2 separate regions of the Homo sapiens genome follow, and region 1 is linked to region 2. The links come from fine-mapping of genetic effects on gene expression. Tissue or cell type: blood mononuclear cells. Region 2 holds a variant in brackets; the other region holds the start of a gene. All regions are shown on one strand. Distances are from middle to middle.

Evidence for each region. PIP is the estimated chance that this variant, and not a neighbour inherited with it, causes the effect.
Region 1: it holds the start of LINC01088, and the variant in region 2 is fine-mapped to the expression of LINC01088 in blood mononuclear cells (TOPMed, PIP above 0.99). The same link has a PIP of 0.9 or more in whole blood.

What each region holds. Positions count from the first base shown.
Region 1 is chr4:78,966,936-78,975,046 of GRCh38, reverse strand. It overlaps LINC01088 (long intergenic non-protein coding RNA 1088), which reads right to left and starts at 3,299. Exons shown (of 6, transcript NR_038342.1): 1 at 3,171-3,299; 2 at 1,995-2,047.
Region 2 is chr4:79,206,759-79,214,869 of GRCh38, reverse strand. The region is part of intron 4 of LINC01088 (long intergenic non-protein coding RNA 1088); the gene reads right to left. It also overlaps a transcript of NAA11 not described here. Among named protein-coding and RNA genes, the nearest start is that of NAA11, 120 kb to the left of the region's middle. The variant C/G (reference allele first, on the strand shown) is at 4,070.

The DNA.
Region 1 (8,111 bases), 240 kb after region 2:
AAGTCATGTATAATTCTAAACCCTGATTAAAACAAAACTAGTCTGAATCTGGTAGCAAGTAAATTTATATAAACATATTTTATTGTAATTATATCTAATATTTAGGAACACATTTACCACTCCACAGATGCCCAAAAGTGTAAAAATAACCCTAGTGCAACTCATTAGGAACACTAAACACCAAATGTGTCACTTGATGAGAAACTGCTAAAGGCTTGCTAATAAATAGTCTAATTTCTATTTGCTTCCCAGTTAATCTCGTTTTTAAAAATGTTAGAACACAACTAAGTTGGGCAGAGGAGTAATCTCAATGCTTAGATCTTCCTCTGTCTTCTCCTTCTCACTTAATTTCTCAACCCTGTCTTTAGAGTTCTTGAATCCATGGCCCTCCTAATCCCATTTGGTTTTGCTTACAGTAAACAAAAGCTTCCTTTTTGAGGGACCATTGACTCTGGGATGGAGCCCAGAAATAACCTGGTGGTCTCACTAGAGGGGTTCTGATGATTACCAGGCACCTGCAACAGAAGCCTTCAGATATGTGGACGTTTGCACTGATTGGGGGTAATTTTTCTATTTTATGCACTTTTAATGCATTTTCTATTAATCAACAAACAGAGAACACAACCCCAAATAACTGAGCAATGACCACGGCTAAAAAGCTGGAATGTGAATTCAGCTTTCCGGGATTCCCAAGCTTCTTACTGCCCACAAAGCAGGACACAGACATGCAGAGATATGTGCTCAAAAACTGTCTTAAAGCCGTATACAAAGACAGCATCACTTTGAATTATGCTACAAAACAGTGCCTGAAAGTTGTGTATGAAGTAAATTTCCATTACAAGAATCACAAATTGATATTTTATTTTGAAGCTATTTACAGAGATGTGTTACACAAGTCCTAAAAATGTGTCTCCCTGACCATGCCACATGCATGGGCAGAGGAACACAGGCACACACATGTACATATACACAAGCCCCTTCACCTGGCTGACTTTTTCATCACTCCTCATCACTTCATCAGGCAAGTCTTCCCAAACCCTCCAGACTCAGCTCAATCCCCCTCATCTTCTCATTGTCTCTGTAGCTCTTACCATAGTTGCCAACTGATTCATTATTTGTTAGCAGAATAGGATAGTGTTTAAGTGTCAGATTCTCAAGCCAATCTTCCTAGGTTCAAATATCAGTTCTGTCACCTACTGGTTGTGGGATCTTGAGCAAGCTCCTTAACCTTGCTTTGCCTCAGTTTCCTCAACTGCAAACTAGAGATCAGAGTTCCATCTTCTGGGATTATTGAGTGGAACATGTGAGATAACGCATGTAAAATATTTGGGAAAGTGTCCAGTACATAGTAAGTTCTATACAGGTATTTGCTATTATTATTTATCAGCTGTGAGCATCACTCATTATGCTGTAAGGTGCACAAAGGCTGGAATTGTTTCTGTATTTCCCACTCCTCATATCTGCTTTCAAATAGTTTTTGGAGGAAGAAAGTTGTGAAATCCCAAAGTTTCCTCTGCCATCACTAAATCTCTTCATCTCATTCACAGCTCTGCCACATTCTCTACGGTCACCACCATTGGAGTTGCTGTCACCACAGCTACCACAGCCCCTTTACTGACACATCCAAATACCTTAAGTTCAAAAGGCTGTGGCATCAGATTCAGAAAGAAGAGTGCTAATTCTAAAAGATAGCCATTCGAGCAGCAGCAATGTAACAGATGTTTTGTTGATTTAGCAATTATTTCAAAGGTAACAAAAACTCTGGCTAACAATAGAGGAGGAAGGAGCTTACGCTCCAGAAGAAACACACCAACAACTACAAATTCACAGCCACTATCCACCAAGGGGGTACAAAATAATAGTAAGAATAACAATAACAAAAACAACAATGAAAGCACTAAGATGCTTTCAAGGGAGGCACCATAGCAGAGTCGTCATGAGCACAAGACCTGGATCCTGCCAATCTGGGTCTCAAGCCCATCTCTGTTACTTACTAGCTGTGAAACGCTGAGCTGTTTCTTAATTTTTACGTGATTTAGCTTCCTCTCTGAAAAATGAAGATAAAAATAGTATCAGCACCACTACAGTATTACTATAAGGACTAAAGAATTACCTTTTGTAGAGAACTTGGAACAGTGACTGGCACATAAAAAGTATTCAATTAATGTTGGTTATTTTTGTTAATTGAAAGAGTTTTCACAGACATATCTCAAAGGACCAGCACTGAGAGTTTTCCACACATATATTATGCAGACACACACACACCCAAGACCTTTTTCCCGACACCTCACATTAACACTACACTTTGATACAGTGTGTACTCTCTCAGGCCCTTTCCTTGGGCTCTTACACAAAGCCAAGAGTTCTGCCTGTTGCTCTTTTCCCTGATGTGACTATTACCTGTGTTAAGACAGGTATCTTAACATGCATAGATCTTAAATCAATCTATGCATGGCTACCATTATTTCACTGCAGAACACGGACTAATAGTCCCAGCTTTACTTCTCAATCGAGGCTTTCTGTAAGAAGAAGAGCTTCCTATCCAGGTTTTCTTATGAACACACAAAGACCAATCTTTTATCCATGGCCTAACCCAGTGTTTACCAAACTTGAATACATCTGAAGACTTGCAAAGCTCTATCAATTTCTGTCTGAGAGACATATTCCAACCCTTAAATTTATGAAAGACTCAACAAGCTGAAAAAGCAAGCAATACAATTTCAGAGAAGTAGTTTATCCAAGGATACATGGACAGTAAAAAGTAGAACTATGCCTTAAAACCCTTCTTTTGACTTTAGTACAATGTTTTCTTTTAAATTTTATTTATTCAAGAAGTTTGGAATTTAGAAATCATGGAGATGATTGGGCAAACCTAATACTAAAGGAAAAGTCAGATAATCCATAATATCATTGCTTTTTATCCCATTAAAAAAGCTGAGAATACTAATAAAGCTAACTTAACTAAAATCTGTATAGTTATGATCCCGTTCTATAAAAGAAGAGACCAGTGAATTTTTTCATCCCTGGTGGTGCAGCAGGAAACAGAATCTACCACAGAAAAGAAAATGAGGAACTACATGAATCTTAGACAACTATTAAGACCTGTGTGTGAACTAGCTTGACATGCTGGAGTCCCAAGGAACCCATCCACACCATCAAGCTGTACTCACCTGCCAGCACTTTACCACAGGTCTTCACCAGGCACAGAGGAGGACTATACTGAAGACTGAGGGAAAGTCAAGAAATCTGAGAGAGAGAGATCCTTGAGGCATGTGAACCTTCCCTAAGTGCAAGGCAGCATCCCAGTGAAGACTGGAGTCAGGGCAGAAGAGTTAAAAGAAATCTGTCTGAGAAAGTCTAGGCCTTCACTAGGTCAAAACAGTTGCAACGGAGGCCAGAAATAAGGCAGAAGAACTGAGAACAGTTGCTCAGAGTGTTGCAAACTTTCATTAAGTACAAGGCACTGGATGCCAAAGGCTTGAAGCAGCAGAGCAAAAAGAAGAGAGACCTCCTGAGATTAATAAAGTCAGAAACAGGAAAGGAAAAAGAACTCCCTAGCAACCAAAACAGTCTGGGAGCACACAGAGATCTCTGAAATCTTGCCAGTGCTCAGATCACAAGCCCTAGTGATAGAAAAGACCTTATTCTGTTTTCAAAACATTTGAAGTCAGTGGTAAACTAATCCAACTAAAGCTGAAATAATCCCACATACCTCAAATATACAACAGATTTCCTCAACTTTCCCAAGAAAAGGTCTAACAAAAAAAGTATGCACTTTTTTAGGGTAAATAAATATTAATTTTCTCAATCTCTACTATTTTTCTCACAATATCCAACATAGAGTAAAAAATTTTGAGACCCACAAAGAGAAAAAATGTGAGCAATAATCAAATGAGAAAACAGTCAACAGGCTGAGACTCTAGAAAGCACAGACGTTAGATTTATCAGGGAGTAACTTCAGCATAACTATGATAAATATGTCAAATAATTCAGTGGAAAAGGTAGAGAGCATGCATGAATATATAGAGAATTTCAGCAGAGTAATGAAAAGTATGAAAAGAAACCAAACTGCAATGTCAAAATTTGTTTTTAAAATACACTGTCATCAAAAGAGAATACATATTAGGAGTCTAACAGGCCATAAAACACAACAGTAGCCTATTAGCAGCAGCAAAAAGCAGAAGTAAACCTGAGGACAGGTCAATTATCCAAAAATAAATAAATAAATAAAAGGGGGAATGAGTGAAAAACTTGAGTCTATGATCTCTAGGACAATATTAAGTAGCCTAGTAAATATGTAATTGCATCTGTGAGAGATAGAAAATGAGTCAGAAGAAATCCTTGAAAACATAATGGCCAAGAATTTCTCAAAATTGATTAAAAATATCAAACCTCAGCATCAGGAATCATAGTAACCCCAAAAGAGGATAAACACAAAAACAGAACTAGGCACACCATACTCACTCTGTTGATAGCCAAAGATGATACAAAAATCTTAAAAGCAGTCAGAGAAAAAAGAAACATTACACGGAAGAAAAAAATGATAAAAATTATGTCTAATTTCTCTTCAGAAACAATTACTCCAAAACAATGGAATGACATCTTTAAAGAGCTGAAAGTGAAACATGTTAGTCTGGAATTCTGTATAGGATTCTAAATAGATTCTACATAAAATTGTAGCATAGTCCTATATCCTACAAAAATGAAAAATAAAGACATTTTCATACCCTTCTCCCCAAATCAGATTTTTTTTCCAGGAGACCTACACAAGAAATGCTAAAAGAAATTCTTCAGGGCCGGGCGCGGTGGCTCACGCCTGTAATCCCAGCACTTTGGGAGGCTGAGGCAGGCGGATCACAAGGTCAGGATTTCGAGACCATCCTGGCTAACATGGTGAAACCCCATCTCTACTAAAAATACAAAAAATTAGCCAGGCCTGGTGGCAGGCGCCTGTAGTCCCAGCTACTCGGGAGGCTGAGGCAGGAGAATGGCATGAACCCAGGAGGTGGAGTGTGCAGTGAGCCTAGATAATGCCACTGCACTCCAGCCTGGGTGACAGAACGAGACTCCGTCTCAAAAAAAAAAAAAAAAGAAAAAAGAAATTATTCAACATGTACATAATAGGCACATAAAATAGGCACAACAAACCATTTGGCAAAATCCAACATCCATTCCTCATAAAACGACTCAGTGAAAAAGAAACTGAAGAGAATTTTCTCAACCAAAAAAAAGCACCTATGAAAATGTATTATACTGAAAGATAAAAGACCAGAACAAGACAAGAATTTTTACTCTCAACACTTCTATTCAACTTTGTCCTGGAAGTTTCAGCTAGTACAATAAAAAAAGAAAAGAAAAATAAATAAGCACAGAAATCAGAAAAGAAGAAATAAAACTGTCTTTATTCACAGACAATATGATCATTTGTATAGAAATGTGATGGAATCGAGAATCAAAGCTACTTGTACTAATAAGTAAGCTTAGCAAGATTTCGGGATACAAGATTGGCATATAAAATCAACTGAATTTCTATATACTAGCAACAAGTTATTGGAAATTGAATGTTTTAAATGTCGCTAATGATAACATAAAAATATATAAAATAGGGATAATGTACATAAAAGATGTGGAAAACCTATAAACAGAAATCTTAAAACATTGTTGAGAAAAAATAAAGAAAAAACAAAATAAATAGATATATTAATTAGCCAGTAATATATAAAATATTACTCAATATTTTAAAGATGTCATTTCTTCCCAAATTATTCTACAGATTCCAGCAAATTCCAATCAAAATCCCAGGAGGACTTTTGTAGAAATTGACAAAACACATATGAAAATGCAAAGAACCTAAAATAGTCAACAGCAACTATTTTTTAGCTCAGTGGCAAGAAACAATAGCAACTTTAAAAAAGAACAAACAAGTTGGGGGGTTAACGCTATTTGATTCAAGACTTCTTGTAAGTAATCAAATAAATGTAGTACTTGTAACATACACCAGTAGATCAATGAAGAAACAGACCTGGCCAGGCAAGGTGTCTCATGCCTGTAATCCCAGCACTTTGGGAGGCCGAGGTGGGAGGATCATCTGAGGTCAGGAGTTCAAGACCAGCCTGGCCAATGGTGAAACCCCATCTTTACTAAAAATACAAAAAAAGAAAAATTAGCCAGGCATGGTGACACATGCCTGTAATCTCAGCTACTCAGGAAGCTGAGGGAGGAGAATCACTTGAACCCCGGAGGCGGAGGCTGCAGTGAGCCAAGATTGTGCCACTGCACTCCAGCCTGGGTGACAGGGAGAGACTCTGTCTCAAAAAAAAAAAAAAAAAAAGAAAAGAAAGAAAGGAAAGAAAGAAAGAAAGACACCCCCACACATACATGAGCAAATGTTTTCCACAAGGATGCAAAGAAAATCTAATAGAGAAAGAAAGGATAGTCTTTTCAAAAACAATGCTGGAGCAACTGGATATCCACATGCAAAAAAGAAACTTGAATCTGCCCCTTAATATATCTATTTATTTTGCCACATGCAAAAATTAACTTAAAATGAATCATTGACTTAACTGAAAATAAAATGACAAAACTTCTTTTTAAAATAGGAGAATAACTTTTGTGACCTTATGATAGGCAGATTTTTCAGATATAACAAAAATAATCTACGAAAGAACAAACTGACAAATTGGACCTTATCAAAATTAAATGTACTGTTCTTCAAAAGATACTGCTAATAGAATAAGAAAATAAGCCACAGGATGGAAGAATATATTTCCAAATGATTTCTATAATTTTTTAAAAAACTAGTATCCAGAATACATAATGATTCAAAATAAATTGAATCACTGTATTCAAAAGAAATAACCCAATGTTTTAAAGGACAAAAGATTTGAACAGACACTTCAGCAAAAAAGATAATGAGTGGCAAATAAACACATGAAAAGAGTCTCAACATCATTAGTCATTATGGAAATGGAAATTGGAACCACAATGAGATGCCCCTTCATACCTGGGTAAATGGATAAAATTTTAAATATCAATAAACAAACAAATAAGTAGAAATTGACCATACCAAGCATTGGTAAAGATATAGGAGAACTGGAACTCTCATACACTTGATGGCAGAATTATAAAATAGTATAACCCATGGTCATTGGAGGAAACAGCATAGATGTTAATCAACAAATTAAAAATAAAACAACCATATGATCCAGCAATCCTACTTCTGGGTATTTATCCAAAGGAAATGAAATCAGTAAGTCAGTGAGATATCTGTACTTCTATGTTCATTGCAGATTATTCACAATTTCAAGACATGGAATCCACCTAAGTGTCTATTAATGGGAATAAATAAAATGTAGTATATATACACAATGGAATAGTATTCAGCCATTCAGCCATAAAAAATGAAATCTAATCATTTGTGACAACATAGATAAATCTGGAGGATATTATGCTGAGTGTAATAAGCCATGCACAGAAAGACAAATACTGTATGATCTTACTTTTATGTGGAATCTAAAAGAGTTGAACTCATAGAAGCAGAGAATTGAAAGATGGTTACCAGGGGCTTGTGAATGTGGGGACAATGTGGAGATGTTGGTCAAAGAGTAAAAAGTTTCAGTTAGACAGGAGAAATAAATTTTGGAGAATGATTACACAACATGGAGACTACAGTTAATAATAATCTAAACTTGAAATTGCGGAAAGAGATTTTAACTGTTCTTACCACAAAAAAATAAGCATGTGAGGTGATAGATATGTTAACAAGCTTGATGTAATAATTCCACAATCTATACATATATCAAAACATCACATTGTATACCATAAATGTATGCAATTTTTATTTGTCATTTAAGATATAGATTTGTAAATTAAATTAAATCATAAAATACTACAACTACTTTGAAAAACAGTAGACTTTTTTTTAAGGTTACCACAAAATCCAGCCATTTTACTATTGGGTATTTACCCAAGAGAAATAAAAGAATATGTCCACATAAGACCTGTACACAAATGTACATAGCAGCTTTATTTTTAATGGCCCAAACTAGAAAGAACCCAAATGTGCATAAACAGATGAATGGATAAAGAAACTATGGCACACCCATACAATG
Region 2 (8,111 bases):
CAGAAATGCAAGAGAGGGTGAGAAATAAGACAGGACTGAAGTTGGACTTTTATTTTTATTTTTATTTTTTTTTAGATGGAGTCTTGCTCTGTTGCCCAGACTGCAGTGCAGTGGCGCCATCTCGGCTCACTGCAAGCTCTGCCTCCTGGTTCATGCCATTCTCCTGCCTCAGCCTCCCAAGTAGCTGAGACTACAGGTGCCCGCCACCATGCCCAGCTAATTTTTTGTATTTTTAGTATAGACAGGGTTTCACTGTGTTAGCCAGGATGGTCTCGATCTCCTGACCTTGTGATCTGCCCACCTCGGCCTCCCAAAGTGCTGGTATTACAGGCGTGAGCCACGGAGCCCGATCCTGAACTTGGCCTTTTATAATAAACCCACTCCCACACTAATGGCATTAATCTAGTCATGAGGGGGGACCACATATGGCCTAATCACCTCTTATTAGGCCCCACCTCCCAACACTGTTGCATTGGGGAATAAGTTTCTACTACATCCTTTTGCAGGGCCAGGGGGTGGTTCATTCAACCAATAGCATACATATATATCAAGTACTTGTGAAAGATCCAACTAAATTCTGTCATATTGGTCTCCATTGCATTAACATTTCTGTTATCAAAATCAAGAGTCCTTACTACTTCCTTCCAGTAGTAGAGGAGTATTTCTATTTTATATGTTCTTGTACCACAATGTGTATTGGAAATCAAGCAGTTCTTTTGCAAGTCATCACCATAAAAAATACTCATGATCAGCAACTGGCTCATAGAGGGGCATTTGGAACATTTGTCAATTCCTGTGTTGTGGTGGTGTAAATAATCCCACTATGGTTAATTTAAAGCTACCAATGATTTACCAACCAGAATGCAAAATTCCTGAAAATATAAGAGTCAGATAGTAAGAAACAGTACTAGCCAGCCCCAGGATATCAGTATTTATTAAGGGCCTATCTGCATGTGCTACAAATTGGGCACTCCATAAATAAGTGGAAACATCAATGACTTGTGTTTCTAAAATGATGTCATCAGTATTTCTGTGAAGGTGAGCAATTATAATGAATAGAGCTAGTTCTAAGCATAACCAAAACAAGTGGAGAAGTAAAGGACATAAGGGATTCCATGTACTTGACCCTCATCTAGTTTAGAACCAGCTTGAAAAAGAAAATAAATAGCTGGATTTTGTTTAGAAACATAAGCAGATAAATGATGTCTTCTCCCATATGATATTCTGGCATATAAACTATAAGATAATCAACTAAATTGAAACACACAAATAAATAAGAGTTTAACTATATTTTAATCATAAGAAGTTCATTTTATATGAGTCATATAAAATGTAAAACAAAAGCTTCCTATTCTTACCATATTATGCATAAATGGGATAGTTTATGCTGATAAAATTTCAAATATTAATTTTAGGAAAAGGAGTTTTTCCAAATCTGAATTTATAAAGTTTTGAAATGACAGACCACATATCCTCAAACCATGGCTCTGATTATCAGAATCCCTAAAGAAAAAAAAAATCAACTACATATCACATCAACTGATCACTTTTACTGCTTACATTTCTGATCCACATGTACTTGCCTGCCTGTACATATTAATATTTCAGCATGTAGCAAAATAACTGAACCCCTGAAGCTCTTTGTTCATTAATACTACTATCTGTCCCATGAATACAGTTGTCATCCTGTGCTTTTGGCAGTTGCTGAAGTTAATTTGTTAGCTTGATAGCCCCACCCAAAACATTGCTCTTTCATTGTGATAATAATGAACCAGTATAAAATTTTTTATACCTTGGAATCAATGTAAAAGTAAGTAAGTGTCTAGTTTACAAGTAGAGTACTGTATTTGGTGTTATAAAGAATAAAGAAAATGGTATATAATATGATCACTGTTCCAAGGAGTTTACAATCTAATTGTGGAGATAAGATAAAGCTTTATGGACAAAATGACACTATACAATTATAATACAGTAGTCCTTCTTTATCCTTGGGGGATATGTTCCAAGACCACTAGTGCATGCCTGAAACTGTGAAGAGTACTGAACCCTTTATATACTGTCTTTATATATATATATATACCTATAATAAAGTTGAACTTATAAACTAGGCACAGTAAGAGATTAACAACAATAACTAATAATAAAATAGAACAATGATAACAATATATTGGATTATAAGTTACGTGACTATGAATTCTCTCTTTCCTCTCAAAATATTTTAGTATTTTTGGACTACAGTTGAGCATGGGTAACTGAAACCATGTAAAGTGAAACCGTGGATAGGAACAGACTACTGTGTTCAAGGAAGATTCAGCCTTTCATTAACCTCATCTCTGACAACCCAGGAAGCAAACAAACAAGCAAAACCTTTGCAAGGTTTTGCAAAGGCCATGTACATGACAAGGCCTTTGCAAGAAAGGAAGCCTTGAGTGCTCACTTAGCAATTATTTCCTACTTTTATAACATCCCAACAAACTAGGCTACGTAATTCAAGCCGACAACTGATTTAAAAGTATCAAAACAGACCTTGGGAGAAATAATGGCCCAGAGTAAAATGAAAAGAAAAACTTTAATAACAGGGGAAATAGTCCTATATATTTTAATGGAGCATTTCAAAGAGTACTATGTTTGACTAATAAAAATTATTGTTCATAATGTTGACCCTAAGTCATCAGGAAAGTGTGAAATTAGAATAACCTGTTTAAAATGGCAAGGAGGCATGTAAAATGTCTTTTGAAAATGTTTCATTCAAAACAGTTAAGTTGTATTGCTTATGACAGGGCATCTGCTATACAGAATTTCTTATGCTCCCAGTGTTTAACATAGCAGAGGTTTCACTGTATATTTTTGTTCTAGAAAATTCCAGGAGACACCTGGCATTGGCAGAGTCTTTTTAAGCTTATGAGAAGAGCTCTCATGAGTCAGAAAAGTTGACATTTCTTTCTAGACTATCTTCCAAGATGAGATGTTTATAAACTCACAACTTTGGGGAAGTTTACCAAATGGTGATAAGAAGATGGTCAATTCTAGACCCATTAAAATGGATGACATTCTAAGGAATTTACCTTGGTTCTTCTGTTTTCCTGCAAAGTGAGCCATTCAGGCATTGCATCTTCTGAAATTTCCTCGCCTCTTTCAGGGAAGCATATTGGGACAGAGCTTGCCAGCTGTCTGCTCCCTTTGCCTTCTGCTGCCATTATCCTGAGGTACCGCCCCACCTTCTGGCCCTCCAGCTTGTGGGGGGTGGGGAATAGGGAGGAGAACAGAACTCTCACTGCCTCTGACATGCATAACACAATGAAAAGAGCAGAAGGAATGTATATCTATACATATATTTGTCTCTCTCTACATATAGACATACATAGACTGATAGTACGAGTGTGTGCATGTATATGCATGTGAATCCACATGCCCAGTGCCAGAATATCTCTATATGTATATATACACGGTATATATTCCATATGCTCTTTCTTTCTGCAGCACACATATGCAGCTGGGAATAACTACTGTGAAAAAAAATTACATACTCACCGAAGACAAATTATGAAGCAGAAACAAGAATATATGGAATGTAGCTATTATAAATTCTTCTCATCTGCTGCCTGCCTTTATTAGAACATGCTCATGTAGCTTAAGAAAATATCTAGCGTTTTATATTGCATGCATATAAAACTACCTCTTTTCCCTCAGTCTCATGTTTTACACAAGCTCAGCCAGTCACTTAAGCTGGTTCTGGACTCACAACTAATGTAATCAAAAGGTTTAAAGAAACATAATAAATACTTAATGCTGAATTATGATGGTTGAGTAGATTACTGGGCAAAAAAAAGCACTGTATAGTTTGAGCAAACAAAAAGATGACAGGATTCCATAATAGACAAATGTGTATAATGACTACTATCTGCAAGTCACTGCACAAAAGACCCAGGCATCCACTTTGTCGTTTAATCCTCACCTGCCCCTATGCAGTTATTACCATCACTCTCGCCATTTTACAGATAAAGAAAGCGGGGTTTAGAGAAACTAAATAACTGACCTATTGGGCCGGGATCTGGCTGCAGTATATCTG[C/G]CTCCAGAGCCTTTCTTCTTCTTTTTTTTATTTTTCTTTTTTTGAGACGGAGTCTTGCAGAGCCTTTCTTCTTAAACACCATCTTACGCTGCCGCTAACCCAGGGTATATTAAGATGTCTAACATATATAGAAGCATATGCTGTGCATATAGGAATATAAAAGCATATGATAGTAGTCTAGGTGGTGGAAGCTAACCCCTCCTTTTAAATTTATTTTTGTCATTCCTTTACTATAAGTAGTTGATAAATTTCATGATGCACAATTTTGTAAGGTCCTCTGAACAGGCTATGCCGTGGTGAAGCCATTATGATCCCTGTGATCCACACGTACACATCCAGAAGGTCTCCTGGAGCCAGAAAGTCTGGGACAACAGGAAAACCACAAAGGAAGAAAAAACAGCTAGTTCCTGTCTTAGCTGATTAGCCAGCCTTGCAACATTCTACCCTTGTAACATGCTCTACCCTAACTGATCAACCTCGTGACACTGTGCCCTGTGACCCCTCCCACCTTGTGATAATGTACCTTGTGACATTCTTCCCCGCCCGCAATAAACGTCCCCTAACTGTAACTTTCCACTGCTTAGCCCTAACCTGTAAAACTAGCTCCAATCCCGCCACCCTCCACTGACTCCCTTTTCAGACTCAGCCCACTCGCACCCGAGTGAATCAACAGCCTTGTTGCTCACACTTAGCCTGTTCAGGTTGTCTCTTCAATTAGACACATGCATAACAAATTTAACCAGTGTATTTTTTTTCAGAACAAGTCTTGTTCTGTCACCCAGTCTGGAGTGCAGCAGCGTGATCTCAGCTCACTGCAATGTCCCCCTTCCAGGTTCAAGCGATTCTCTTACCTCAGCCTACCAAATAGCTGGAATTACAGGTGTGCGCCACCACGCCTGGCTAATTTTTGTATTTGCAGTAGAGATGAGGTTTTGCCGTGTTTGCCAGGCTTGTCTCCAACTCCTGGCCTCAAGCAATTTGCCCACCTCCATCTCTGAAAGTATTGGGATTATACATGCGAGCCACGACGCCCAGCCCTGACCAATGTAATCTAAACTGGGTTATTGAGGGTTCAGTTACAATGAATCTGATGTAATTTTTAACTCAAATTTTAAAATAACTACAAGTGTGCAACTTAAATAAGCATTAAAATAGTAAAAAAAAATCCTTTTTTTCCTACTTATATATTAACTTTTATTAAAATTTATCAGGACAATAGTGGCTTACTTACTCAGAGTGACAACAGTAAGCTGAATACTTTCCCAGCATTTGCAATGGTCCCTCTGGGGAGTTGGGTTGGGTGTTCAGTGGATGTATTAACTTTTTTGGGCCACCACAATACACTGAATAGCCTTTAATGGCCTGAAAACGCAGGTGATTAAGCATTCATAGGCCAAGTGACAAATGGCAGCAATCCCAAACCATTTCTCAATGAAGACTTCTTGTTTAGGAATTTATAAGGAAGTAATCACTTAGTAAGATCTATCACCCACTTCAAATGCTTCAATTATTCATCTCACTAACACATTGAGCTTAATTCTCCTCAGTGTCTAAATTGCTTCCTGATATTAATTTAAGGGCTTGAGGAGTGATCCTAACTCATTTAGGCCACTTGGTGCTGTTAAGACTTGTGAAATGTATTTCAGGAAAAGATGCAATTCAGCCGACATTTCAAAAATTGTTCAGCCCACGAACTTCTCACCAGCCTGTCCATTTACAAATTTCAGGCAGTTAAGACAGTAAGTTTAGTACATAATCCCTGCAACTATATAAAATACATTATTATTAGAAAAAAATTATGCAAGCCTGAAAATTTTGTTCCAGAAGCAAAGGGCAGTTTTGGTTTTTTGGGGTTTTTTTTTTTTTTTTTTTTTTGGCAGTTATATAATTTTTTGAGATCACTTTCAATCTACTAATCTCCAGATTTGGGGGAATTTATTTTAATTTATTTATTTTTATTTTCTTGAACCAAATCCAAATTATTAGTTTTAGCTGGAATTCCTTCATTTTTTTAAAGCTTATAATCTAAATTTCTATGAAGAGGTATTATCCTATTTAGCCAAAATATTCATACATGAAATATGTATAATGCTATACAAATGTGACTATTACTTTAAATATAAAATATTAAATTGTAAGCAATAAATATTAGGTTAGGAACAAAACTGAGTTTGGAAAAAAATGTAGAACTACTTCCTGGACTTAATCTCTCCTTTTATAGATGCACAGTAATCATCTATGCAAGAATAAATTTAGCTTAGAGGCTTTTCTTTCATATGTGGGCTAAAAGCCCACCCTTTGTCCAATAGAAATGAAAAGCATGTATATCTATTTCAGTCAGAAATGCAAAATATCTGTATTGGAAGTCCTTTATAGAAAGTATAACCTTGAACTTTCAAATAAGCGTGGTACTTTATAACTATGTTGCACCCTAGCAGCTAAGTCTTATGGTAGGTTCTCATTAAGTATTATCACATTTAATTATTAATAAAACACTTGTTAAGAGTGTTAATATTATTGTATTATTTTTCAGATTAGAACACTGAGGCTTATAGAGTTTAAATGCCTTTCTGGAAATGATTTAGCTAGGGAGAGGCCAAGTGAGGAAAAAACCAGGCCACCTTATTCCAAAGTTAGAGCCCTTGATTCTCGCAACATTCTGTTCCTCCTGTCCAATTCCTATTGAAAGTCAAATTTTGCGAAAATGTACTTAAAGACTGTCTGGAAGTCAGGTAGTTATTTTATTTCTGTAAATATTCTGTTTCAACTTTATTAATATGCCATGCTTACATATCATAATTTGATCTTTGTACAATTGCTTTAAAAGGAATTATCCTTCAATGTTTGATACCCACCTACACTGAGGATCATATTACAACTGGCATATAAAATACATAATATAGAGAAGATGTTGAAGATATCATCCACCCCATAGAAGACAGTCCTACTTTTTTGTTTTTTTAAATGAAGAACAATGTTCTTTTTCTTTATAAAACAATATGTCATTGAAGAAAAATTAGAAGAGAGTAGGAAAAATGAATGATAAAAGCACTCATAATCCCCAACATCCAGTGGTCACTAATGATAACCCTTTGAAGTGTAACTTTCTTGATCAGTTTAGTATGCTAACATATTAAAGAGCATGTTAGGTGTATTAGTCTGCTCAGGCTGCCACAACAAAATTTCACTTAAACAACAGAAATTTATTTTCTCATAACTCTGAAGACTAGAAGTCCAAGATTACCATGCCAGCAGGCTTGGTTTCTTGTGAAGCCTCTCTTCCTGGCCTGAAGATGTTGACTTCTTGCTGTGTGCTTGCATGGGGCCTCTTGTGTGCATGCAATTGAAAGAAAGCTCTGTGTTTCTTCCTCTTCTTCCAAAGCACAACAATCCTAAGGGATTAGAACTCTCCTTTTTTTTTTTTTTTTTTTTTAACCTCATTCAACCTTAATTACCTCCTTAAAGGCCCTATCACCAAACACAGTTATAGTAAAGATTAGACCTTCTGGAATGGATTAAAAAACAATGCAAATATCCGCTGCCCACTTTCACCACTTCTATTCAACATAGTACTGAAAGTCCTAGCCAGAGCAATCAGGCAAGAGCAAGGAATAAATGGCATCCAAATTAGAAAAGAGAGTCAAACTATGTCTATTTGGTGATGATACAATCTCATATCTCAAAAATCCTAAAGACTCCTCCAAAAAACTCCCAGACTTGATAAATGAATTCGGTAAAGACTCAGGTTACAAAATCAATGTATACAAATCAGTAGCACTACTATACACCAATAATGACCAAGCTGAGATCAAATTAAGAACTTAATTCCATTTATAATAGCTACAAAAAAACCAAAATACCCAGGAATATAGCTGTTTGAAATTCTTGTTCTTTGATGCTGTAAAGAAATAGCACTTGAACGTAAATTTAATTTTTTCAGCAAGGCTATTTTTACTTTCTGCAGAAAGGGTACACTTGCTAGCAGTTTTGCTACGAGAGTACACTAAAAAAAGAAAAGAGGGTCATTTATAACTTGACGCAT